Linked DNA regions of Homo sapiens. The protein of the gene in region 1 purifies or fractionates together with the protein of each later gene. This does not show direct contact. Each region holds a gene or a part of one and is shown on either strand. Other genes may lie near its edges.

Region 1 (3,500 bases):
CAACAGGAATATAAACTTTTGGTTGAGATGAATAAACTCTACAGATTTGATGTATAACATTGTACCTGTAGTCAGCAGTAATGCATTGTACACTTAAAAGTTGTTAGGAAAGTAGATGTCATGTTAAGGGTTTTTACTACAGTAAAATAAAAAAAGAGTCCATGTGTCATAATGAAGATTAAATAACATAAAAAATGTGTGGTACAATCTGGCATATACAAACTACTTGTTAAATGTTAATATTTATTATTTAATGTTTATAATACTTAAAAGTCATTTTGTATTTCGCTGTCCTTCGGTTTTGCTTGTTTGTTTGTTTGTTTTGACACGGAGCCTTGCTCTGTCACCCAGGCTGGAGTGCAGTGGTGTGATCTTGGCTTACTGCAAACTCCACCTCCCAGTTCAAGCAATTCTTCTGCCTCAGCCTCCTGAGTAGCTGGGATTACAGGTTCGTGCCACCATGCCTGGCTAATTTTTCTATTTTTAGTGGAGACGGGGTTTTACCACGTTGGCCAGGCTGGTCTTGAACTCCTGACCTCGTGATGTGCCCGACTCGGCCTCCCAAAGTGCTAGGATTACAGGCGTGAACCACCGTGCCTGGCCAATTTTTGTATTTTTAGTAGAGATGGGGTTTTATCATGTTGGCCAGGCTGGTCTTGAACTCCTGGTGATCCGCCTGCCTCGGCCTCCCAAAGTGCTGGGATTATAGGTGTGAGCCCCCGCGCCTGGCCATCCTTTGTATTTTTTGATGAAAAAAAAAAATTTTTTTTTTTTTTTTTTTTTTAAGACAGAGTTTCACTCTTGTTGCCCAGGCTGGAGTGCAATGAGTGCAGTCTTGGCTCACTGCAATTCCCACCTCTCAAGTTCAAGCGATTCTCCTGTCTCAGCCTCCCGAGTAGCTCAGATTACAGGCACACGCCACCACGCCCGGCTAACTTTTGTATTTTAGTAGAGACAGGGTTTCATCATATTGGTCAGACTGGTCTTGAACTCCTGACCTCAGCTGATTTGCCCACCTTGGCCTCCCAAAGTGCTGGAATTACACAGGTGTGAGCCACCACGCCCGGCTGTTTTGATGAAATTTTTTGAAAGAATGTATTCATATTCCTGTAGATTTCCCATTTCCCACATTCCCTCAAATTTAGTTTCCGTGTTAATATCTTCTATTAATTTTGAACAGTGTCTTTATTGTAGTTTATGCAAAGTGAGGAGTGAGTGCCATACTTATTTTGCTTCCTGTTGAGAATAAACTGAAGTTAAATTACTGACATTTTGCATATTATCTCAATCATTTTTTAAGGACCTGTAAAACAGAATAAGGTGAATCCTAATTTGCTAGATGCAGATTTCTTGTAGCTATTTTTGATTCCTGCAGGCTGCTCTGATTTGCTACTTGAGGAGGAAAGCTGATTTGGGGGTTTTCTTTTTGTCTTGGTTCTAGCACATGCAGATGACAATCCAGGCTCTCCAGGATGAATTGCGGATCCAGAGGGACCTGAATCAGCTGTTTCAGCAGGATAGTAGCAGCAGGACTGGCGAACCTTGTGTAGCAGAGCTGACAGAGGAGAACTTTCAGAGGCTTCATGCTGAGCATGAGCGGCAGGCCAAAGAGCTGTTTCTTCTTCGAAAGACATTGGAGGAAATGGAGCTGCGTATTGAGACTCAAAAGCAGACCCTAAATGCTCGGGATGAATCCATTAAGAAGCTTCTGGAAATGTTGCAGAGCAAAGGACTTTCTGCCAAGGCTACCGAGGAAGACCATGAGAGAACAAGACGACTGGCAGAGGCAGAGATGCACGTTCATCACCTAGAAAGCCTTTTGGAGCAGAAGGAAAAAGAGAACAGTATGTTGAGAGAGGTATGTGACTACTTTTTTAGTTTTATGATTTGTTGGTTATCTTTTTTTTCACTGATTAATCAGCATCTTGGCCCCAGTGAATCTACGTGCTCTGCCGTGCTGGTGGAAGAGAATTTCATCCTTTGTATTTAAGTGCGTCACTGATTTCTGTTCTGATTTGCCCTGTTGTATGGGATGACATTGTCTGGTATGTATGCTGGCTCAGTGACTTTCTGGGTCTTTTCTCTCCTGCTCCCCTGATTTTGAGAGTTCATTTGTTGCTAAAGGGGTAAAAAATTCCTTGATTTTTCACTCATCTCTAGATCTGTTCATAGAGACAACAAACACAACAAAACCAGAATCAGAATAGCTAACCATTGCTTAATTTAAAAATATTAGTAAAAGAGAGTAAGCGGTTATCTCAGCTTATGTGTGCTTATAAAAGTCCTTGGCAGCAATAATGGATATTTGCCCTGTGGTTTCCATGGAAACTGTTGCCTTGCTGTAAAAGATACGTGATAAAAATCATTGGCTGCCATGGAGGCATAGCTGGAGAGAGTGATGTAGAGACACAGTGTTACTTATTTTTAGCTGACCTAGGTGACTACTGATAATTTTTTACTTTTCTAAATAATGTATCATTTTAAGAAGGCGTAAAGGAAGAAACCATCTTATATTGAATTAAAAAATTAATAGCCATAATAACTTTTCTATATATAGTTGGACTTCAGGTAATTTTCACTTTTGGGCAGGGGAAAATAAATCCCTAATCTGTGTTAGTATGAGTCTGAATAATTCCTTTTTAAATAAAATGTGAGGAAGGAGGTTTAAAAAATGGCGTATTCCCAAAGCAGCAAAATAATAATTTTTAAAAATACTTCTAAATTTGTAGGTTGTTCTATAATTTTTCCTTTTGTAAAAAGTCTGAAATCTTTTTTAACAGTGAGGGCATTTTTATTTTTGAAGTAGAACATCATTGTTTTTTAAAAACATGATGTTATTACACTGGAAATCCATTGTAGTAAAATTGGGAAATAGATTAACAAAAACTTATAACTCAAAGTATTGTTACCTAGTAGTAATTATTAACTTATGTATATGCTTCCAGTCATTTTTTTTTTATTTTAAATTTTTATTGTTTTTATTTTTAGAGATAGGGTCTCACTCTGTCACTCAGGCTGGAGTGCAGTGGCATGATCATGGCTCACTGCAGCCTTGAAATCCTGGGCTTAGGTGAGCCTTCTGCCTTAGCCTCCCTAGTAGGTAGGTCTACAGGTGCATGCCACCATGCATTGTTAATTTTTAAATTAAAAAAAAAATTTTGTAGAGACAGAGTCTCCCTATGTTGCCTAGGCTGGTCTTGAACTCCTGGCCTCAAGCAATCCTCCCTCCTTGGCTTCTGAAAGTGCTGACATTACAGGCAATATGCCTATGCCTGGCCCATTATTATTATTGTTGTTGTTGTTGTTGAAAGTGCTGAGATTACAGGCAATATGCCTATGCCTGGCCCATTATTATTATTATTGTTGTTGTTGTTGAAAGTGCTGAGATTACAGGCAATATGCCTATGCCTGGCCCATTATTATTATTATTGTTGTTGTTGTTGAAAGTGCTGAGATTACAGGCAATATGCCTATGCCTGGCCCATTATTATTATTATTGT
Region 2 (3,500 bases), on another chromosome or scaffold:
GAGGGGAGGAGCCACGCTGGTCTGTCCTCGAAGGCCTCATCCTCTTGGCGGCCAGGCTGCAGCTTCCCTGCCTTCTTCCATGAGGGACTTGATTCGGGAAGACTCAGGTGAGCGGCTTTTTCTTTTCTGGCCCCTGGTGATGCAGGCTGTGAGTCCTGATGACCGCTTCATCCTCACTGCCGACCGGGACGAGAAGATCCGAGTCAGCTGGGCCGCGGCGCCCCATAGCATCGAGTCCTTCTGCTTGGGGCACACAGAGTGAGTGCCCCTTCCTGCCCCTCCAGCAGAAAGAAGGTCTGTTTGAAAACAGCGTCAGCTTGCGGCTCAGCAGGTGCCGTTGTAGCTGGCGAGGCCCCACGCGGGTGACAGCAGCCCCCGTGCTTGGTGTTTGGTCACTGCAGGCGCCGTGGTGCTGCCTGCAGAAGCCCTGAAAGGGTGGGGTTCACTCTGCGCTGTTACCCGGAGTCTGTGCCAGTAACTTGGCATTGGGCCTGACCGAACAGGAAGGGCTTGTTTCCGGGAAACCCCTGTCTCAGTGTGGAGACCCCTGCACCATGCCCGGGAGTTGTTCGCTGGTGGGTGGTGGGGGTGTTGGGGGCGAGGATGAACTTTAGTGATTTCAGCTGTCCAAGAATTAAGCGGCCTCTGCAGCCAGGTGGCGGCGTCTCTCGTGGCAGCACACTCTGCCAGGACCCATGTGGAGGTGTTTCTGAATGCCCGCTCCTGTCTCACACAAAAAGCTCATTAGAATTTACACAAAGGAAAAACGCTTAGTGTAATTGGCTGAAATGTTTTAAAATATATTATTTGAGGCAGTGGAAGAAATTGGAGGGAGGAAATTCAGTGCCGAGGTTGCCTGTGTTTTCCTGGTTTTGATCCAAACATTTCCTGTTTAAGAAGGCCAGTCACTGGTGTGTGCCTCAGGATAGCTTCTTCTGACTTGCATTTAGTTCGCTAGTGATCCAGCTCTGGAGTTCTCTGGCCTGCAGCCCCCCGGCCCCTCCCCTTCACCATCTCTCGCTGGGGTCTCTGCAGCTCCCTTGCCTCGCCAGGCACGTGAGGGAGGTTTCTGCTGACGGGAACACGCTTCTCACCCTTCTAGGGAAATGCTTCATCACTTAGAAGTATTGAGTAAAAACATAGTATTAAAATTAACTTCAACTGCTCCCTCCCTCCCTCCCTTCCTTCCCCCCTCCCCACCCCACCCTTCCCCTCCCTTCCTTTCTTTTCTCTTTCTTAGCTGTGTCGCCCAGGCTGGAGTGCAGTGGCGTGATCTTGGCTCACTGCAACCTCTGCCTTCCAGGTTCAAGCGATTCTCCTGCCTCAGCCTCCCAAGTAGCTGGGACTACAGGCCCCTGCCACCACGCCCGGCTAATTTTTTTTTGTATTTTTAGTAGAGACGAGGGTTCACTATGTTGGCCAGGCTGGTCTTGATCTCCTGACCTCATGATTCGCCCGCCTCGGCCTCCCACAGTGCTGGGATTACAGGCGTGAGCCACCGTGCCCGGCCTGCCCGTTTACTTTTCAACATAGTGGCTGGCAAATTGAAAACAAAGCCCCGTGGCCCCTGTGTGTGGCTGGAGGTGTGTTTCTGCTGGATGTGCTGTTCTGTGCCCTTTGCTGACATTGCAGTATCAGTTGGTTCACTGGCCGTCTCCCGCTGCGTCTGAGTGGTTCTGTGGGTCTGTTGGGCCTGTTGGTGTGTGCAGCCCTCAGCGTGGTGCCTGGCATGAGTAGGTGCTCAGTAGATAACTGCAGTGATTGGACGAATTATGTTTTGAGATTTTGTTTCAGACCCCTGGAAACTGGTTTCCCGGCCTTTCAAACCGTTGAGAACTGTGAGGCCACTCGTGCCCTCTGCACGGGGCGTCCTGTGCCCTATCTGTCCTGGGCTGTGGGCTGCTGTTGGTGCTGTGGTGCCGTGCAGGGCGGTGGCTGCGGGACCGGGCCCGGCTCACGCGATGGCTAGCCCAAGGTAGCAGAGGCCATGACTGGTGGAGATGGAGTGAGGCTCACGGGCCACCCCATTCCAGGGTCCCCGGGAACCCCGTGCATGAGGGATTGCTTGAGGCCACTGTGTTAGAGTGGGAAGAAAAGGGGCCTTGTCACCCTTGTAGGTGCCCGAGCCAAGATGGGTTTCCAGGCGAGCTGGGCTGCTTGGGTTATTCTTCATGGCTGTTCTGATGGGAGGGTCCCTGTGACTTTGAGTCCTGTGCTTGCAGGCCAACCCCTCACAGGAGGACTGGGCCGGGCTCAGCAGAGACAGCTGTCTGGCCAGGTCACTCAGAGTTGTTGCTGAGGGGCCGTCAGGACCCTGATAGGAACCTGTGGGCTTGGCTGCCCTCCTCCCTCCACCCTCCTCCCTGTGTGCTGTGTCTTTGAGTCTCCCCCGTGTCTTTGAGTCTCCCCCAAGGCTCCTTTCATCACAGTGCAGGTGCCTTGGGCCAGGGTGGGTGCTGGGGGGCCTGTAGAGGTGCCGCTGAGCAGAGCTGCTGCAGAGGGGGCTGCAGAGGGGCACAGAGGCGCTTGGGTCTCTGGCAGGCATGGCTGAGGAGCGGCCTGGGTTAGAGGTTGCTGTGCTGTTGGGGACCCAGGAATGACCTCACTCACCTCCCCGACTGCGTCCAGGGGCCTCCACCTGGTTAACCCTAACCAGGTTAGGGTTAACAGCTACTTCCCATGTTGGCTGTTTTTATTGGATCAGGGGGTTTAGGGCAGAGGCTTCTCTTCCTTAGATGAACAGGCGGCCTCCCCAGGCCTCCCGGTCCCTGCGGGCGCTGGGCTCGCTGACTCTGCCGCTCTCTCTCGCCCTCACAGGTTTGTGAGCCGTATCTCCGTGGTGCCAACTCAGCCCGGGCTGCTTCTGTCCTCCTCTGGGGTAAGTGTTCTGCCCAGCGTCACTCACCTCTGGATTCTTGAGCCTGCAGGGAGGGTGGGGTGGGCGCCTCCTGGACCTGGCCCCTGTGGATCGCTGGCCCCTGGCTGGCTGTGGCTGTCCACTAGATCTTAGAGCTGCCTGCGGCTCGCTCCCCGCCTGCGGCCGCTCACTCAGGACTGCGTGTGGGGTGTGCGTAGGTGCGTGTGTGTTCGCCTGTGGGATGAACTAGCACGGGTGTGTGGAAGGCTCCCTTCTGAGGGCGGCTGCTGCATCTACGATGGTATCGGGGATCAGGATCTCAGGTAGAAACAGTAGACGGGGGCTTCTCTGACTCTTGGAGGGGTCTCAGTCCATCCCATTACGGGCTGCATTTTTTTTCCTTTTCTTTCCTTTTTTTCTTTCTTTCTTTTTTTTTAAGATGGGGTGTTGCTACATTTTTCAGGCTGGTTTCAAACTCCTGGGCTCAAGCGATCTGCCTCCTTGGCCTCCCAAGTAGCTGGGACCACAGGCTCGAGCGCCCGCACCCGGGTTACCACAGTGCATTTTTGCTTGTTGGGTACAGCTTCTGTGTCCCAGCAATTGGGTCCTGGAAGCCTTACAGTTTAGTGATGAGAGACGTGTT
Region 3 (3,500 bases), on another chromosome or scaffold:
GGCTTAGTGAGGAGAATGGATGGCCCCTGGGTCCCATCTCCCGTCGCTAGAGAACTGGGGAGCAAGAATTGGAGTTCTGGCCGGGCATGGTGGCTCACACCTGTAATCCCAGTACTTTGGGAGGTCGAGGCAGGAGGATCACCTGAGCCCAGGAGTTCAAGACCAGCCTGGACAACATGGCGAAACGCCACATCTACAAAAAGTTTTAAAAATTAGCCGGGTGTGGTAGCACGTGCCTGTGGTCCCTGTTGCTTGGGAGGCTGAAGTGAGAGGATCATTTGAGCCCAGGAGGTTGAGGCTACAGTGAGCTGTCATTGCACCACTGCTCTCTAGCCTGGGCAGCGGTGTGAGACCCTGTCTCAAAAAATAGTAAGAAAAAAGAATTGGAGTCCTTGTCCATCGTAATGCCTGCATAGTAGTCAGGGAAGAAGAAGAGCACCACAGTGGGCCCTGGGCACTCACTTCTGCTCTGGGCCTCGCAGGCAGCTGAGCCTGAGGTGGAGGTGGAGGTGTACCGGCGGGACTCCAAGAAGCTGCCAGGCCTGGGAGACCCTGACATCGACTGGGAGGAGAGCGTCTGCCTGAATCTCATCCTGCAGAAGGTATGGGGTGGGATGGGTGGGGCTGCGGATTGGCCCTGTGGGATGGCTGACCCCTCCCTGCACGCTGACCCGTGCTCTCTTCCAGCTGGACTACATGGTGACCTGTGCGGTGTGCACACGTGCTGACGGCGGGGACATTCACATCCATAAGAAGAAATCTCAGGTGAGCCCTGGCACGAGAGCCCCCAGCCTCCTAACTGCCAGTTCAGGCTGGGCGTGGCAGAGAGAGACAAGTCCTCCTGCTTGCTTCTCTGCCCTGGAGGTGAGGGGTCTGACTCCAGAAATCTGCTCAGCTCCTGGGATCCCGTATCCCATTCGAGGAGCACAGAACCAGCTTATCCCCCACATCTCCTGGTAGGTCTCTGGCTTTGGACTGGCTCTGGGCCGGGTGGCCTCCCTATACTGGCTTGGACTGGCTCTGGGCCTGTGTGCCGGGTGGGGCCTCACTTGTCCTCCAAATCTGCTTTCTTCCAGCAAGTGTTCGCGTCCCCCAGTAAACACCCCATGGACAGCAAGGGGGAGGAGTCCAAGATCAGCTACCCCAACATCTTCTTCATGATTGACAGCTTCGAGGAGGTGAGCTCTGCACAGGGCCTCTCTCCTTAGCTTCCCCTTCTCGTGAGATGGGTGTTAGGCGCTTCTCCCCGCGGCCTTAGCCTTGCAGAAAGGCATGGGTGGCTTGGAGCCGGGAAGAGTCCGGCTGAGGCAGATGTGGCTCTCTCTCTTCCCAGTGTTTGCTTGTGGGCAGGTGAATTTCCCCGGCGCAGCCTCCGTTTCCTCCTCTGTAAAATCAGTGTCATGATCATCTGTCCTACTTACTGTCAGGGCTGAAGACTAAAAGGCTCCTGAGTGGGAGGACGCCTCATAAACTCTTGCAAGAAGCACTGCCCGGGCGGGAGGAGCCATTATTAATGCTAGTAAATGATAAAGAAGCGCCTCCACGCCTGCACTGACTTGGAATCCTAGGATGTCAAAGAGGGATGGGGTTTCCGGAGTTATCTGGGCCAAGCCTTTGTTTTAAGGTTTGGGAAACGGGCTTGGGCAGAAGGAGACTCACCGAGAAACACAGGGCACTGGGAGGGCGGGGAGGGAGCCGGTCGCAGCTCACTCCCTGCTCTGCCCATTTGTGTCTCTCCTCTGTTGAGGCCCTGGTCGGGGTCCTTGTGCGCATCCAAGGTGCTCAGGGCCCTGAGGACTTAGGAGGAAGGCGTGGGCGTCTGCAGGAAAATCGCAGGCTCAGGGAGGTCATGTCCCCTCCCCAGGCACACGTAGCTCCTAGAGGGCAGAGCTGAGATTTGCGTCTAAGTCTTTGTGGCCTCGGAGCTCACAGTCTGTGCACCAGGTCCTGGGAGCAATGACTCGGGAAGGTGGCAGGATGGGGCCTGTGGCACCTTAGTCTGGTGTTGTCACCCCAGGTGGGCAGTCACCCTGCCACCACACTGAGCCTTTGGCCACACAGGAGCCTCAAAGATGTGGCAGGCAGGGCTGGGCACCCCTAGGCGGTGTGGAGGGGCCCAGACGGTGGCTGACGGTCCTGGTGAACCGTGATGAGGGTGTGCGTCTTCTGCCAGTCCCAGAGTCTCCGTAAGCGTCCCTGTCCTCCCCTGCTGCTCAGCCCCTGCCCCAGTGTGAGGCTGTTCTTGTCCTGTGGGGCTCGGAGGGCATGGGGCCACAGGAGTGTGTGACAGCCGGTTGTCCCCTGCAAAATGGGGTTTTCTGAGCAGCCCTCCCTGCCAGTTGGGCCAGGCTGTGGTGTGGGCGGTGGGAGCTGATGGTCACGTCCCTGTCTCTTTGTGTCCTGGCCCAGGTGTTCAGCGACATGACCGTAGGGGAAGGAGAGATGGTCTGTGTGGAGCTGGTGGCTAGTGACAAAACCAACACGTTCCAGGGGGTCATCTTTCAGGGCTCCATCCGCTACGAGGCGCTCAAGAAGGTGTATGACAACCGGGTGAGTGCGGGGCGGCCTCACGGGTGTTCTTCTGGGCCCGGGGACGGCGGCTCCACAGCCCACCGTGGTCCATACCATGGGGCCCCCCAGCCTGCTTGTGCATGGTAGCGGCCGCCAGGGGTACCTGCAGCCCCTCCGGGCTCCTTCTAGGCGCTCCCTGGTCCTCTTAACGTCATTCTTCATGGTCGGCCTCAGCCCATGCGGGCCACTTGCCTTCATCTGAAATGTGAGCGGGAACTTCCTCCTCAGTCTCTAGTTCCCTGGGAAGTGATGGCTGATGGTGTCGCTGTCACCTCCTCACTGTCACTTGCTTCCTGCGACTGGCCCTGGGAGTGCTCCGAGTCGCCCCCAACTAAGCAAGCAGATGTGGGCAGGCCCCTCTCCCCCAGCGGGCACCATCCGCAGCCAGCCTTGCTGCCAGCCTGGGGCCCTGTCCTCAGCCTGGTCCGTGGTTCATGGGGCGGTGGGAGGGGCACCAGGAGGGGCACCAGGCAGAGATGTGGGTCCATTCCAGCTGCCCCGCCTGCCAGCTCAGACGCTCCCTCCCGGGCAGCCCCCGCTCCTTGAGGGATGGTCGCCCTGGCTGTTCATGTCCTGGGGAGGGGCCCCATGGAGCCATCGCCACCTCCCTGACTCAGGCTGCCCCGCGCCGGCCCCCAGGTGAGCGTGGCCGCCCGCATGGCACAGAAGATGTCGTTTGGCTTCTACAAGTACAGCAACATGGAGTTTGTGCGCATGAAGGGCCCCCAGGGCAAGGGCCACGCCGAGATGGCGGTCAGCCGAGTGTCTACAGGTGACACATCCCCCTGTGGGACTGAAGAGGACTCCAGCCCAGCTTCGCCCATGCACGAGCGGGTAAGGGCTGCACAGCTGGGGGCGGGGGCTCCCATCCGTCAAGTTCACTTTCCACCGTCTCCCCCGTGCTCACGGCCCCCTGGGGACATAGGTGT
Region 4 (3,500 bases), on another chromosome or scaffold:
AAGGAGAGTGTCTGTTTGAGCTATAAAACTAATTATAATTAATTATAAAACTAATTATAAAACGCTATATAGTTATAAACACAACTCTAGATATGCTATTCTTTTTTGCAAATAAATCTGCAAATTTATCAACAGCTCAATTCACGTAAGAACTAAACATCTATTTCGTGTGGGGGGATGAAGGGAGAATGTTCTGAAATACCAGTTTCAACTAAAGAAGTTCACATGGATCTCTTTAAACTGGATAACATGTTTTCATTTGTTTTTAAATATTAGTTTGAATAAGAAAAAAGTGAGATGCTTGTATTTTGAAAATCCTCAATAACCAGCGCAGATACAGTAAGAAATCCAACTAAGAAAGATCTACCATAAAAGGCTATTTTCCCACGTCCATTCCTTTCCTGCCCTCAACCTTGGAAATACACTACACCTTCCAAATACACACCATGGTTAACTGCTGCACTACTAGTAATAAAGACCATATATTAAAAACATCATTGGTCAAATTGACTTATTAGATTTTCATGAAGAAAATTTCATTTTCACAATTCTCCTTTGCTATAAGTTGTATGGAACTAAACCATGTAATTCAATTAGCTGTAAACTACCAGAAACTGTTAAATGCTAAATTCACCCTTTTAAAAGTATTTTATACAATGCCACATTCAGTTGCTCTACTGAAATATGGAAAAAAGATACGGCGATTTACAAAAACTGGTGTCAAGAATGTCAACAATAATTAATTGTAGACAATTAAAACACCACACAAGCTGACAAGTTTTAAAATGACCCTCTGAACATAACATTTAACACAATCATTCAAAAAGCCAAAAGAGCCACCTTGTTGCAGTAAATTGATTTTGTGGGAATCAATGAACAGGGAGGAAGTTGGTTCCTTGTATTTAAAATGAACAGTCCCCTAACAAACTGGGTTTCCTTTACTTACCCCTTGTAGCTGATTCGCTTGAAGGATCTCTGACACGGAGATGGCCAGACAAAGAGCCTGACTCAGATCTGCATCATCATCCTTAATTCCCAACAAAGTACTACCAAAGAGATGGTGATTATCCTGTTTGAAGGGAAATTTTTAAACATTATGAAAAAAAAAATCAAACTTTCTTCCTAAAAATATTCTTATTAAACCATGATAAAAGGTAAAATTATAATACTCTTGAGTTGTGATTTTTTAAAACTTAATACTACATAATCTCAAATTTTATAGGCTAAGAACTACAAAAATGTCACATAAAGTCCCTGTCAGTGTTCATACAAAATGAAAGACTAAGAAAAAAAAAACACATTCTAAATAGCTATTTTCTATACTACCACCTGTAGTTAATATTGAACTTTAAAAATGGTTACTTACAATTTTTCATATCTTAATAAAAACAAATATGTGGCAGAAATCTATTGCATAAATGAGTTAAAATACTGATCCACAGCCTGCTCTAATTCACAACTGCTAGTACAGTTTCACTATGTCTGAAGAATAAAAGGTGCAGCTCTTGAATAAGAAAAAAAATAAGACTTCTTTTTCATTCAGTATTTTAAACTACTATCCTACCATCTGACTTATACAGCATTGTTAGGAACTGAAGAGTTCTATATAAGAAAATTATTAAAATAGTTGAAACTGGTCCCTAGAAATAAGTCTTTTTAAATTAGTTATTTTTGAGGGAAAATGATCTTAAAAGGTTTCCTTTACCTGCTTTCTAAAACACAGTATACTAAACATAACTTAACTTTATCTTGACACTTCAGTGACACGATGAGTACCAACTAGAAATTATTATGGCAGAATGCTTTAAAAAAAAAGGTGCTCTCATGGGCACCTGAAGTCACATACAAACCTGTCTGCTTTATAAACTTGTGCCTCTTCCACTATTAGCTTTTGCTTCTTAGAGTTTCATTTTTCAGGAGTTCACATCACTCATACTTCTAATCTGGTGTCCTTTATTAGGCATCTGTCTGGTCTAAGGATCTAAGTCTTTACGGGGCCTAAATGACCTTTCTTTATAAGACAGCTCAGCATTATTAAGACTATACAAGCCTGAACTCCAGAGAAAAGTGGCAAAACTCTACCTCCTCCACTGGATTACTACTGTAATATAATTTTTTTTTTTTTTTTTTTGAGACAGAGTCTTCACTCTGTCGCCCAGGCTGGAGTGCAGTGGCACAATCTCAGCTCACTGCAAACTCCGCCTCCTGGGTTCACGCCATTCTCCTTCCTCAGCCTCCCGAGTAGCTGGGACTACAGGCGCCCACCACCACGCCCGGCTAATTTTTTGTATTTCTTAGTAAAGATAGGGTTTCACCGTGTTAGCCAGGATGGTCTCGATCTCCCGACCTCGTGATCCACCCACCTTGGCCTCCCAAAGTGCTGGGATTACAGGCGTGAGCCACCACGCCCGGCCCTGTAATATAATTTTTAAAGTCAAGAAAGCACTAATTTAGAAAATATCTCAGTCAATTTTCTTATGATCAGAAATAACAATAATCAGAAGAGAGGTAAGATGCGTTCTACTATCTTTTTAACTTGTCTGTTCCTCCACTAGGGAGGGTATTTACAGAGATGAAAAAAAAAAATCACACAAAACTACAACACATAAAGAAACAGAAAAAATTGACAACCTATTTTAACTAAAGTGAATATAAAGTAATAAAACAATGTACAAAATATGAAATACAACATAGTTGGTCATTTCTGGTCTTATACCTTCCTAAAAGAAGCCGGTGTTTTGCTGCAATAATACTGAGCCAGAGAGAAAAGGTCTTCTATATCTTCTATATTCAGACTGGATGGAGTATTTTCCAAGAACTCTGAAATATTATAGACATAATATTTAGTAGTTTGTGAAAAATGCAAATATTGTTTATGTATCAGAGCCGAAATATCTTCATCATAAATACTATGCAAATGGAGTCTCAACACTGGTGCTTTTACAATGACTTGTGGAAAAGTGGATTTCTCCAAATGAGCTGAAACGGCTAATGTAAATCTCTTGTCAGTGAAGGATAGTGTCAGGCAATCAAATCAAATTCATTAACCTTAATTAGAATTCTATGATTTATTTATTAAACATATATGAAGAAATGCCAAGGCCCCTGAACATAAAAAATGCCTAAGAAATAGTTACTGACTTAAAGAACTTTGTCTTGTGTGAAAAAATAAAAATAAATCATTATAATACAGTAAGATAAACATTGTTATACAGATAGAACAAAGTGCCAGGGAATATAGAGAGGAAGTAACTATCTCTATGTGGGGGATATGGTGGGGAGAATCCAAAAGGAGAACCAAGGTTTCACAATTGAAATATCATATAAACTGAGTATTGAAAGGTAAATTAAGGATGGGTAGGGAGGAACAGAGGAGGGCAATCTATTCGAACAGTGAAACTAATGAAATAGTATATGGAAAGGAATGAAAGAGTGAACAAATATGAAGGAATGAATGAAGATGGCAAAATAAAGGAAAATAGTCTTTAAGGTCTGTACCT
Region 5 (3,500 bases), about 79 Mb from region 1:
CTCATAAGAAGCTGAGCACATGTTGATGCCATGCTTGTGTAGCCTGTAGAAGTGTGAGACAATTTAACCTATTTTTCTTATAAATTATCCAATCTCAGGTGTCTCTTTATAGCAATGCAAAGAACAACCTATACAGAATTACCTCAAATACTCATCACTTCTTTTTTTTTTTGTTTCTTTTTTTGAGACACAGTCTCGCTGTCACCCAGGCTGGAATGCAGTGGTGTGATCTCAGCTGACTGCAACATCCGCCTCCAAGGTTCAAGTAATTTTTGTGCCTCAGCCTCCTGAGTAGCTGGGATTACAGGTGAACACCACCATGCTCAGCTAATTGTTGTATTTTTAGAAGAGATGGGGTTTTGTCATGTTGGCCAGGCTAGTCTTGAACTTCTGGCATCAAGTGGTCCACCCACTTCGGCCTCCCAGAGTGCTGGGATTACAGGCATGAGCCACTGCACCAGGCCCTTATCACTTCTTTCTGGTAAGAACATTTAAAATACTCTTAGCTATTTTGAAATATACATTATTATGAACTATAATCACCTTACTGTGCAATAAAACAGAAATTATTCCTCCTATCTAACTGTAACTTTGCACCCATTGGCCAATGTTTCTCCTTTCTCCATCTACCTTAGCCTCTGGTAATCACCATTCTACTCTCTACTTCTATGAGTTTGACTTTTTTGGATTCCACATATAAGTGAGATCACTGCGACAAAATGGATGACGGCAGAGGACATTATGTTCACTGAAATAAGTCCCTGATAATTTTAACGAGGAAAATGCTTGACATTCTTACATGGTAGAACAAAATTCCACACAAATATAAACGTCACCTTAGATGTCTTAACTATATTTCTGTAGCCACAACAATTTCCAGGCAAAGAAACAACTATATAATTATTTGGCACTTTAATAATTACTACTCCATACTAAATAGGGAAAAAAAAAATGAAGAAATACAGTAGTCCTTTTTCCCTTATCCAAGCTTTCACTTTCTACAGTTTCAGTTACCCATGGTCAACCCATGGGTATTAATAAAGCTAGATTAATAATTTTTAATATTTGTTATTTAATAATTTTAATTGATAAAATTTTAGTATTTTAATTAATAAATTAAAATATTAAATAGAAAACTTGAGACATAATTTATAAACTTTAAGTTGTGAGTTGTCCTGACTAGCATGATGAAACTTGGTGCTGTCCTGCTCCATCTCGCCCAGGGCCTGAATCATCCCTTTGTAAAATGTAACCACAGTGTCTATGCTCCCTACCTATTAGTCACTCGGGAGCCACCTTGGTTATCAGACTGTTGTGGTATCCCAGTGATTGTGTTCAATTAACTTTTCTTTTACTTGATAATTGCCCCAAAGTACAAGAGTAGTGATGCTGGCAATTCTGATATGCCAAAGAGAAGCTGTAAAGTGCTTGCTTTAAGTAAAAAGGTGAAAATTCTCAGCTTAATAACGAAAGAAAGAAAAATCATATCCTGAAGTTGCTAAGCTTTATGATAAGAACATATCTTCTATCCATGAAATTGTAAGGAAGGAAAAACAAATATGTGCATAGTATATATAGCGTTCAGTACTATCTATGATTTCAGGCATCCATTGGAGGTCTTGGAACATAACTCCCTTTGATATGGGGGTACTGCTATACTAGTATCATTGAAACGGCTTGTAAAAAGTACAACTGTTAAGACTGGTACTGGTCTTAAAAGTTTCAAAGACTACGTAATTAGATCTCCCCCAAATCCTTAAGTCTGTTATACAACTGATTTCAAATATACTCTTTCTGAAACAATCTTCCTTGCAATGGGATGGTTTCTATTACTAAAGGGAAGGGGAAAGATCTATGTAGAGCTGAGAAAATGTTGGCAAAGCACAAACTGTTTTGTGTAAGTTTAAATAAAACGCTCTGCTTTATTCAAGCTTATAAAGATCAATAAGGAAATCCCCATGAAAACAGTCTTTACAGGTACAGTGGCAGATCAGAACTTCTAACGTATAAACAAGTATAACAGCATAGGTGAAATAAGATCAGACAAATACAAGTCAGATGAATACAGCAAAGTAATACTGATGTTATTCAAATAATCTAGCAACAAAGCCACAGCCCTCAGTAAAATTATGGCATAACATGCTAACTGACCCTCAGGACTAACTTAAAATATCTATGTTGCCATGTATAATTTAGTATGATATATTGTTGAAGATGACTTCAGAATAAAATTTCTCTAATATATAACTGATAAAATAAGAAAATGAAAAATAAGAGCTTTATCAAATTAACAAATATTTTAAAAGGAAAAACTCATCCTTCCCCTTCCTTTCCTGAATAATTAAGTCCTAAAGCCATTAGGCAGGGCAGAGCAACGTGAGAAAACACAGTGGCTCAGATCAGGGTATCAGAACCTGTCATAAAGAAGAGCTGCTTGGCATAGAGAATTCAAGTCCAAGCAAACCAAGGAGACTGCTCACATAGCACAGCTCACTCAGCCTGACCTAAGAAATCAGAGCCTGAGCAGAATGAAGAAGATTTCTACAAAGCAGGGAAGGTAAGGCCTCATTTGTGAGGCAAGGTCAGAAAGGGAGTCCCATAAAGGGGCAGCCAGAGTCCCAAGTAGAATGTGAAGTTTACCTTTACAGGAGGGTGGCTCAGAAAAGGGTGATAGAGCTCTAGCAGGGTAAAAAATGTCTACCCTCCAAGAGGCAGCCTGGCATGGGGTATTCTGTGCCAGAGCGCAGGCAGGATGAAGTGAATGTTCACATGGAGTGGCAGTCTGGCCTGGAGTTGTCAAAACCTAATCAAGTTGAGGAAGAGTCCCCATGGAGGAGCAATCCGACATGAGTTCTCCGAGTCTCAGCAGGAGCAAACAGAGGCCCTACAGAACAGCCTATCAAAGGATGCACAAGCCGGAAAAGGGTGAAGAGAGTGTTCATGCTTACGGTGAGCCCAACATGTGATGTCAGAACCCACTTATGGTAAGGAAGGCATAAGTAGGAGGAAAGGAGGCAATGGGAGATATATTACTACATACAACTCAAGAGGCATAATTGAAAAATTGCCATTAAAATAGATAGTGACTTCCTGGTATTTTTAAATACTCACCTGTAGCAGATAGGAACTGCCTGGATCTAGTAAGTTTACAGCTTCATTCTGAATAGTGTTCTGTTGTGTAATTGCATCTTCTCGTTTCCGCTCTTTCTGCCCTGCTTCATCATCTTCGTACTCATCTAAGCACTGAAAGAAAAAAAGAGTTTCCATTTTATTTCTACTATTAATAGACTGTTTCGATAATATGTGAAAATATATTGATAGTATTAAAGAAATATTTGTGCATTCAGAAATTAGTTTGCATAATAAAAGTATTTTTCTTTCAGCAATATGTACATTTAATTCCTATAAATTATCTGCTTAAAACTTGTACTTCCATATCCACACCACTGCCAACAAATCTTTTCCCTAAACTCCAAACATCAGTGACAGGGTTTTCTTAA
Region 6 (2,254 bases), on another chromosome or scaffold:
TGCACCTAAAATGTTAAGGTAAAGAGTCATTTACATGTGAGCAATAACTAAGAGATCTGAAATAGTTTCTAGATTACTGGTAACACAGCTCATTTCCTAATTCAGATTTTAAAAAATCTGGAATGCCAACTGGACATAGATTTTAGAGTTCTGTCCAGGGTTGTACTCTTCCAGCAGAGACTATGAGTTTCCCATATCAGTGTCATCAAAAGAAACTTGACAGTGTTACAAAATTACCTCCTGTGAAATAGCAAGACTATTTCTTATGGAATAAACAAGAAAGAATCTTGTTCTACCGAATTCTTGACTCACCAACACAATTTTTTTTTTTTTTTTGGAGACAGAGTTTCACTCTTGTTGCCCAGGCTGGAGTGCAGTGGCATGATCTGGACTCACTGCAACCTCCACCTCCCAGGTTTAAGCAGTTCTCCTGCCTGAGCCTCTCGGATTACAGGTATGTACCACCACGCCCAGCTAATTTTTGTATTTGTAGTGGAGACAGGGTTTCACCATGTTGGCCAGGATGGTCTCGATCTCTTGACCTTGTGATCCACCCACCTTGGCCTCCCAAAGTGCTAGGATTACAGGCGTGAGCCACCGTGCCCAGCCAACACCACAAAATATTATTAACATGTCTTGCTAGTGAATTTTTTTTTTTTTTTTTTTTTTTGAGACGGAGTCTCACACTGTTACCTGGCATGATCTCGGCTCACTGCAACCTCCGCCTCCCGGGTTCAAGCGATTTTCCTACCTCAGCCTCCCAAGTAGCTAGGATTACAGGCACCCGCCACCACACCTGGCTAATTTTCTGTATTTTTAGTAGAGACAGGGTTTCACTATGTTGGCCGGGCTGGTCTTGAACTCCTGACCTCGTGATTTGCCCGCCTTGGCCTCCCAAAGTGCTGGGATTAGAGGCGTGATCCACCGCGCCCGGCCTCTGGCTAGCGATTTTTAAAGAGCACTAGGGATGTAGACTGAATGATTTATTATTTGTAGAATTTAGAACAATGCCTGGTACATGGTAGTCACATAAATTATGTCATTAAGACCAAAACTTTCAGCCAGCCACGGTGGCTCACGCCTGTAATCCCAGCACTTTGGGAGGCCACCAAGGTGGGAGGATTGCTGGAAACCAGGAGTCAAGACTCACCTGGGCAACAACTTATCTTTACAAAAAAGTAAAAATAAAAAAAATTAGCCAGTCACAGTGGCATGCACCTGTAGTCCCGGCTACTCAGGAGGCTGAAGTGGGAGGATGGCTTGGGCCCAAGAATTTCAGGCTGCAGCGGGCTACGATCATGCCACTGTACTCCAGCCTGAGTGATGGAGTGAGACTTCATAATAAAAAAAAAAAAAAAGAAAAAGAAAAATACCTAAATTTTCTCATCTCCTACTATAAATGTATGGAACTGGAACAGATTCACATATTACTAAAATAATTAATATATTTCCAAGAGAATGACAGTTATTTATCTCTTACCATTTGTACTAATGCACACAGCTTGATCCCGCTGCAGAGAGTCATATCCATCCTGTTTTTCTGCACACACTCCTATGCTATCTCTTCTGTCTGGCTGTCCCACAGTTTCAACTCTGTAAATGAAGTAGAAAGGTCATTTCATACTTTTAAAAATATAACATGAATGATACTTAACAGCCACTAGCTTAAAAAGAGCAATCTCACCACAATTGTTTTTTTCTAAATAGTACAGCAACCATGATTGAGTTCTTGCTATACTCCAGGCACTGTTCTAATTATTTTATATCTATCTATCATTCTTACAACAATCTATGAGGTAGGTGCTTTTTCTTTTTTGTTGAGACGGAGTCTCGCTCTGTCACCCAGGCTGAAGTGCGGTGGTGCGACCTTGGCTCACTGCAACCTCCGCCTCCCGGGTTCAAGCAGTTCTCTGCTTCAGCGTCCCAAGTAGCTAGGATTACAGGTGCCCGCCACCATACCCGGCTAAGTTTTCTATTTTTAATAGAGATGGGGTTTCACCATCTTGGCCAAGCTGGTCTTGAACTCCTGACCTTGTGATCCACCCACCTCGGCCTCCCAAAGTGCTGGGATTACAGGCGTGAGCCACTGCGTCCAGCCGGTAGGTGCTATTTTTAACATACCCATTTTATAAGTGAGGAAAATGAGGCACGAAAAGAAAAAAAGATTAAAAATAGCTAAATAACCTGATCCCGACTACCTGGCTGATGACTGGTGGAACCAGGACTCAAACACAGGCATTCTGACTCTAGAATC
Region 7 (3,500 bases), on another chromosome or scaffold:
TGGGGGTTTGATATTTTATTGATTCAAGTGCCCTGCAGGTGAGTTGTTACAGAATTGGTCAAAGACTCTTGGCAGCTTTGGCCCAGCTTCAGGGTCAGGGGAATATAGCCTGCAGAGTGACAGTTGACACTGGAGCAGTCCTATAAACCAGGTGCCCATGTTTCCCATCCTTCTCCCTGCCCTGTCAACAGTACGTGTGGTGGCAGGAGTGACTGATCACCTGAAGGAGAATAGTACCAGTGCTGTGGCTTCTATGTCCCATGCTTTTAAGTCATTGTTATCTACCCCTTGCTTCCTTTTAGTAAGAGCTGGATATGGAAAGAGGTCAAAAGTTCCTGAAAGGAAATGAGAAACAAGTGGATAGTCAGTGGTTATCTTATAATAAAAGATATTACAAAGAAAATAAATATAGAACCACAAAAATCAAATATAGGTGCGAAGAAGAGTTTGATCAAGTACTCATCCAGCTTCTTAAGCTTTGGTCGCAAAGGATACGGATTGTCTCAGGAATGCTGGTATCCAGACAATCAATGATCTGCTGGAGCTCTTCCTGCATTCCAGGGGTCTGGAACAGGTCCTCCTACCAAAGAAGTCAGAATGAAGGGACAGGCAAGATAATCACTCCTGAGGTTATGATGATTACCCAAGGATCAGAAGAGCAGCAGGAAGCAAAAGGGAAGGGTGGTATGTGTGTTAATAATTACAAATGGAGGTGTGAAAATAACACATTTTTCCTTTAGCATTTCTCTAATCCATGTGAAATGTTATTTCAAATAGGAAAATGATCTTTTCAAAGGTTTTAGCCTGTACCTAATAAGGCAGGGGACTAGATGGCTAGAGCAGGAAACCAGGTGTTCTAATTCTAGCCTCCTTTAAAATTTTTTTTTATAGAGATGGGGTTTCACCGTGTTGCCCAGGCTGGTCTCAAACTCCTGAGCTCAAGCAATGCGCCCGTCTCTGCCTCCCAAAATGCTGGGATTACAGGCATGAGCCACCATGCCTGGCCTACTTGTAGCCTCTTGACAAGCAGCAGAAGGCAGAGTCCAAACAGAATAACCACATTCAAATGCTAGTACTACTGAACGCTGGGGAAGGAGGAAATCGCATGCTCATACTAAACCTTGCTTTCAAGTTACATTATTCGTCAGTAGGTAAGAGAACATTACCTTTCAATTTAGTCCCAAGAAATATCTCTTTTGGGGGCGAATGAGGTGGGGTGGCATTTTAGTTAGGATTTAAAAGAAAAATTAGGACCAAGTTAAAAAATGGGTTTAAAATCTGCTTTGGATTTTACAATCTCTAATGCCTACATGACTCATAGCCAAAGTAGGCATTATAGACTCAGGTGTGCAGCTGTCCAGGGAAAATGAGAGGGTAGCCAGGAGACAGGTGCTCTTAATTTGGTCCTGGCTCTGCCACAACTACACTTAGGCCTTTGTCTTAGTAAATAACTTACCTTTACATGCTTCAGCTGTGACATCTGTGACTAGGACACTTCCACCCACCCAGTCGATCTGACAGTGCCACTGTGTGCAGGTAGCTTGGGAAAGTTAAAAGCGCTATGCTGACGTGAGGTGTTGTGATTTCCTATAGTAGTTACACACCTTCCAAAGTTGTAGGGAAGGTCTACTCTCACTTACCTGGTGACAGGCGTATTTGAATAGGTGATCTACTAGAAGCCAGATCTCCTTGGGAACCTGAAGGGGTCTCTCACTGGCACCTTCATCCAAAGGAACCATTTGCAGAAGGGATTTCTCCTAATAGATGGAAAAGTATGAGAATCAAAGGGGTCTCAGAATAAAGACTTTGGTGTATAACTTAAAGTCCTTCAAATTCTGGTCATGCAGGTAAAATGTGATCTTCATCTCTTAAGATTTTCCATTTCTTCTCACTGGGGACACTCCTGGTCAGAAGGCACTTGATAGCGAGTCCCATAGTTAAAGGATGTCCTTTCCTAAATGCTTCACTTAATTGTTCTGCATTTCATTTGCGTTTATGATGTTTATTACGTGGATGCCTTGTGTTTAAATCCTTTCAAAGGTGACACTGAGAACCAGTGCTCCGGTGATACAGTCACAGTGGAGTCCATACAGCACTGGTGACTTGGGGACTATTAAATTACAATTGTCAATACAGTAGTTTGAGAGATCAAGGTCTACACTTAGGTTTTTGTTTATTTCTAACTTACTCTTCCTTCAGGTCTTACCACAGATACTGTTGTTTGTTTTCAATGTTGATTTAAATTAGCTTCTTTAGTTTTCAGGAATTAAAGACAACTCTCCACAACATTAGACCCACATATGTAAATACTTCAGGCTTGATGGAAGTTCTAATCTTAAGGTGCTAAAACTCGTAAGCCTTAAGGTCCAAAAATAGTAAACTGAATACAGCTAACCAAGAGGCAGAAATACCACGAAAAGTTTAAGGTCTGAGTCCAGAAGTTACAGTTTCTAGGAATAGCTCAGCCAAGATTTCTAGGGGCTTTTACTCCTTTCATCTATCTTTCTACTATCTGTTATATTCTTCTGAAAGAATTTTGTAAGAGAAAAACCCAGAAGTGACATAAATCAAATCAATCACTATATGTGAATTGGAAATGGCTAGGAAATAAACTCAGTTATCTTAGGTTCATGTAATCAAATATAAATTACATGAAAAAATGTTTGAAATAGTAAAGGCACCTGAAGGCACCCTTCATAAAAATCCCAGTGGAGAGAACCATGACCAATTTTTTTGCATCCTCCTCCCTCCCCCGCCTCTAGCTTGAGGTCATATATATTCTGTATGTTTAACTAAGAAATTCTTGCCTAACATTGTGCAACTTGTGAATTCCATCCACAACCCCCAGTCACGTAGCTTTAAAAGAAAAAAAAAGGAGCATGTCACTACTTTGACAGAGACCACATACACTACAGCCGAGCTGAGGTCTCTTCTTAACATTGTGTTCTTTAACAAGCACTGATGACCTTTAAAAGCTGCTGTGCCTTTCCAAGGGAATAAGAAAGAGAAGGGAGTGTGACAGTTGGTTACCATTTAAAATCTTTCTTTTTTTTCCCCACATTCAGTTTGCTTCCTTTCTTTCCCTGGGATTCTATCACTTGATATTCATGTTCCTAATAGTTGCCAGAATGTCTATCAATGGCTCATCCATTTACTTCTTTCCAGTTACAAATATCAAATCCAAGCATCCACATGGTATTTGAGACAAAACACTGTCCATCATGCACTCTGCTAACTCTCTGGACCAAATGCAGCACGTGTACTGATTCTTTAGCAGATGCCTCCAAACTTGCCATATAGAAATTATGCAGCACTGATTCATGTACTTTTTAAAAAGTCTGACATCCAACTGGAGCTTTTCCTGTACTAAGGCATTAAGGCAACACAAGGCACTGCCTAAGATAAAAAGACAGAACATGGACTGCTCTTAACAGGGAAGAGCTAGGAAGCACAGCTGTCTCAAACCTTGGTGGTTTAAAAAGGTTAATAAAGTGTCAGTA

What was found.
Region 2: the proteins of ERC1 (region 1) and WDR4 fractionate together in Homo sapiens (co-fractionation; one large-scale study listed by BioGRID). This does not show direct contact.
Region 3: the proteins of ERC1 (region 1) and KIAA0930 purify together in Homo sapiens (co-immunoprecipitation; one large-scale study listed by IntAct). This does not show direct contact.
Region 4: the proteins of ERC1 (region 1) and TBC1D23 fractionate together in Homo sapiens (co-fractionation; one large-scale study listed by BioGRID). This does not show direct contact.
Region 5: the proteins of ERC1 (region 1) and PAWR fractionate together in Homo sapiens (co-fractionation; one large-scale study listed by BioGRID). This does not show direct contact.
Region 6: the proteins of ERC1 (region 1) and CRLF3 fractionate together in Homo sapiens (co-fractionation; one large-scale study listed by BioGRID). This does not show direct contact.
Region 7: the proteins of ERC1 (region 1) and OCRL purify together in Homo sapiens (co-immunoprecipitation; one large-scale study listed by IntAct). This does not show direct contact.

Annotation. Positions count from the first base shown.
Region 1 is NC_000012.12:1,081,723-1,085,222, forward strand, and holds part of ERC1 (ELKS/Rab6-interacting/CAST family member 1), read left to right. Parts: intron 1-1,441; coding exon 1,442-1,858; intron 1,859-3,500. UniProt on the Homo sapiens protein: Regulatory subunit of the IKK complex. Probably recruits IkappaBalpha/NFKBIA to the complex. May be involved in the organization of the cytomatrix at the nerve terminals active zone (CAZ) which regulates neurotransmitter release.
Region 2 is NC_000021.9:42,859,040-42,862,539, reverse strand, and holds part of WDR4 (tRNA (guanine-N(7)-)-methyltransferase non-catalytic subunit WDR4), read left to right. Parts: intron 1-145; coding exon 146-258; intron 259-2,817; coding exon 2,818-2,878; intron 2,879-3,500. UniProt on the Homo sapiens protein: Non-catalytic component of the METTL1-WDR4 methyltransferase complex required for the formation of N(7)-methylguanine in a subset of RNA species, such as tRNAs, mRNAs and microRNAs (miRNAs).
Region 3 is NC_000022.11:45,202,895-45,206,394, reverse strand, and holds part of KIAA0930 (uncharacterized protein KIAA0930), read left to right. Parts: intron 1-482; coding exon 483-602; intron 603-687; coding exon 688-765; intron 766-1,076; coding exon 1,077-1,178; intron 1,179-2,409; coding exon 2,410-2,550; intron 2,551-3,210; coding exon 3,211-3,405; intron 3,406-3,500.
Region 4 is NC_000003.12:100,295,492-100,298,991, reverse strand, and holds part of TBC1D23 (TBC1 domain family member 23), read right to left. Parts: intron 2,821-3,500; coding exon 2,717-2,820; intron 1,070-2,716; coding exon 947-1,069; intron 1-946. UniProt on the Homo sapiens protein: Putative Rab GTPase-activating protein which plays a role in vesicular trafficking. Involved in endosome-to-Golgi trafficking.
Region 5 is NC_000012.12:79,617,965-79,621,464, forward strand, and holds part of PAWR (PRKC apoptosis WT1 regulator protein), read right to left. Parts: intron 3,244-3,500; coding exon 3,112-3,243; intron 1-3,111. UniProt on the Homo sapiens protein: Pro-apoptotic protein capable of selectively inducing apoptosis in cancer cells, sensitizing the cells to diverse apoptotic stimuli and causing regression of tumors in animal models.
Region 6 is NC_000017.11:30,784,439-30,786,692, forward strand, and holds part of CRLF3 (cytokine receptor-like factor 3), read right to left. Parts: intron 1,594-2,254; coding exon 1,481-1,593; intron 455-1,480; exon of another isoform or gene 345-454; intron 6-344; coding exon 1-5. UniProt on the Homo sapiens protein: May play a role in the negative regulation of cell cycle progression.
Region 7 is NC_000023.11:129,585,259-129,588,758, reverse strand, and holds part of OCRL (inositol polyphosphate 5-phosphatase OCRL), read right to left. Parts: intron 1,758-3,500; coding exon 1,641-1,757; intron 581-1,640; coding exon 496-580; intron 1-495. UniProt on the Homo sapiens protein: Catalyzes the hydrolysis of the 5-position phosphate of phosphatidylinositol 4,5-bisphosphate (PtdIns(4,5)P2) and phosphatidylinositol-3,4,5-bisphosphate (PtdIns(3,4,5)P3), with the greatest catalytic activity towards PtdIns(4,5)P2.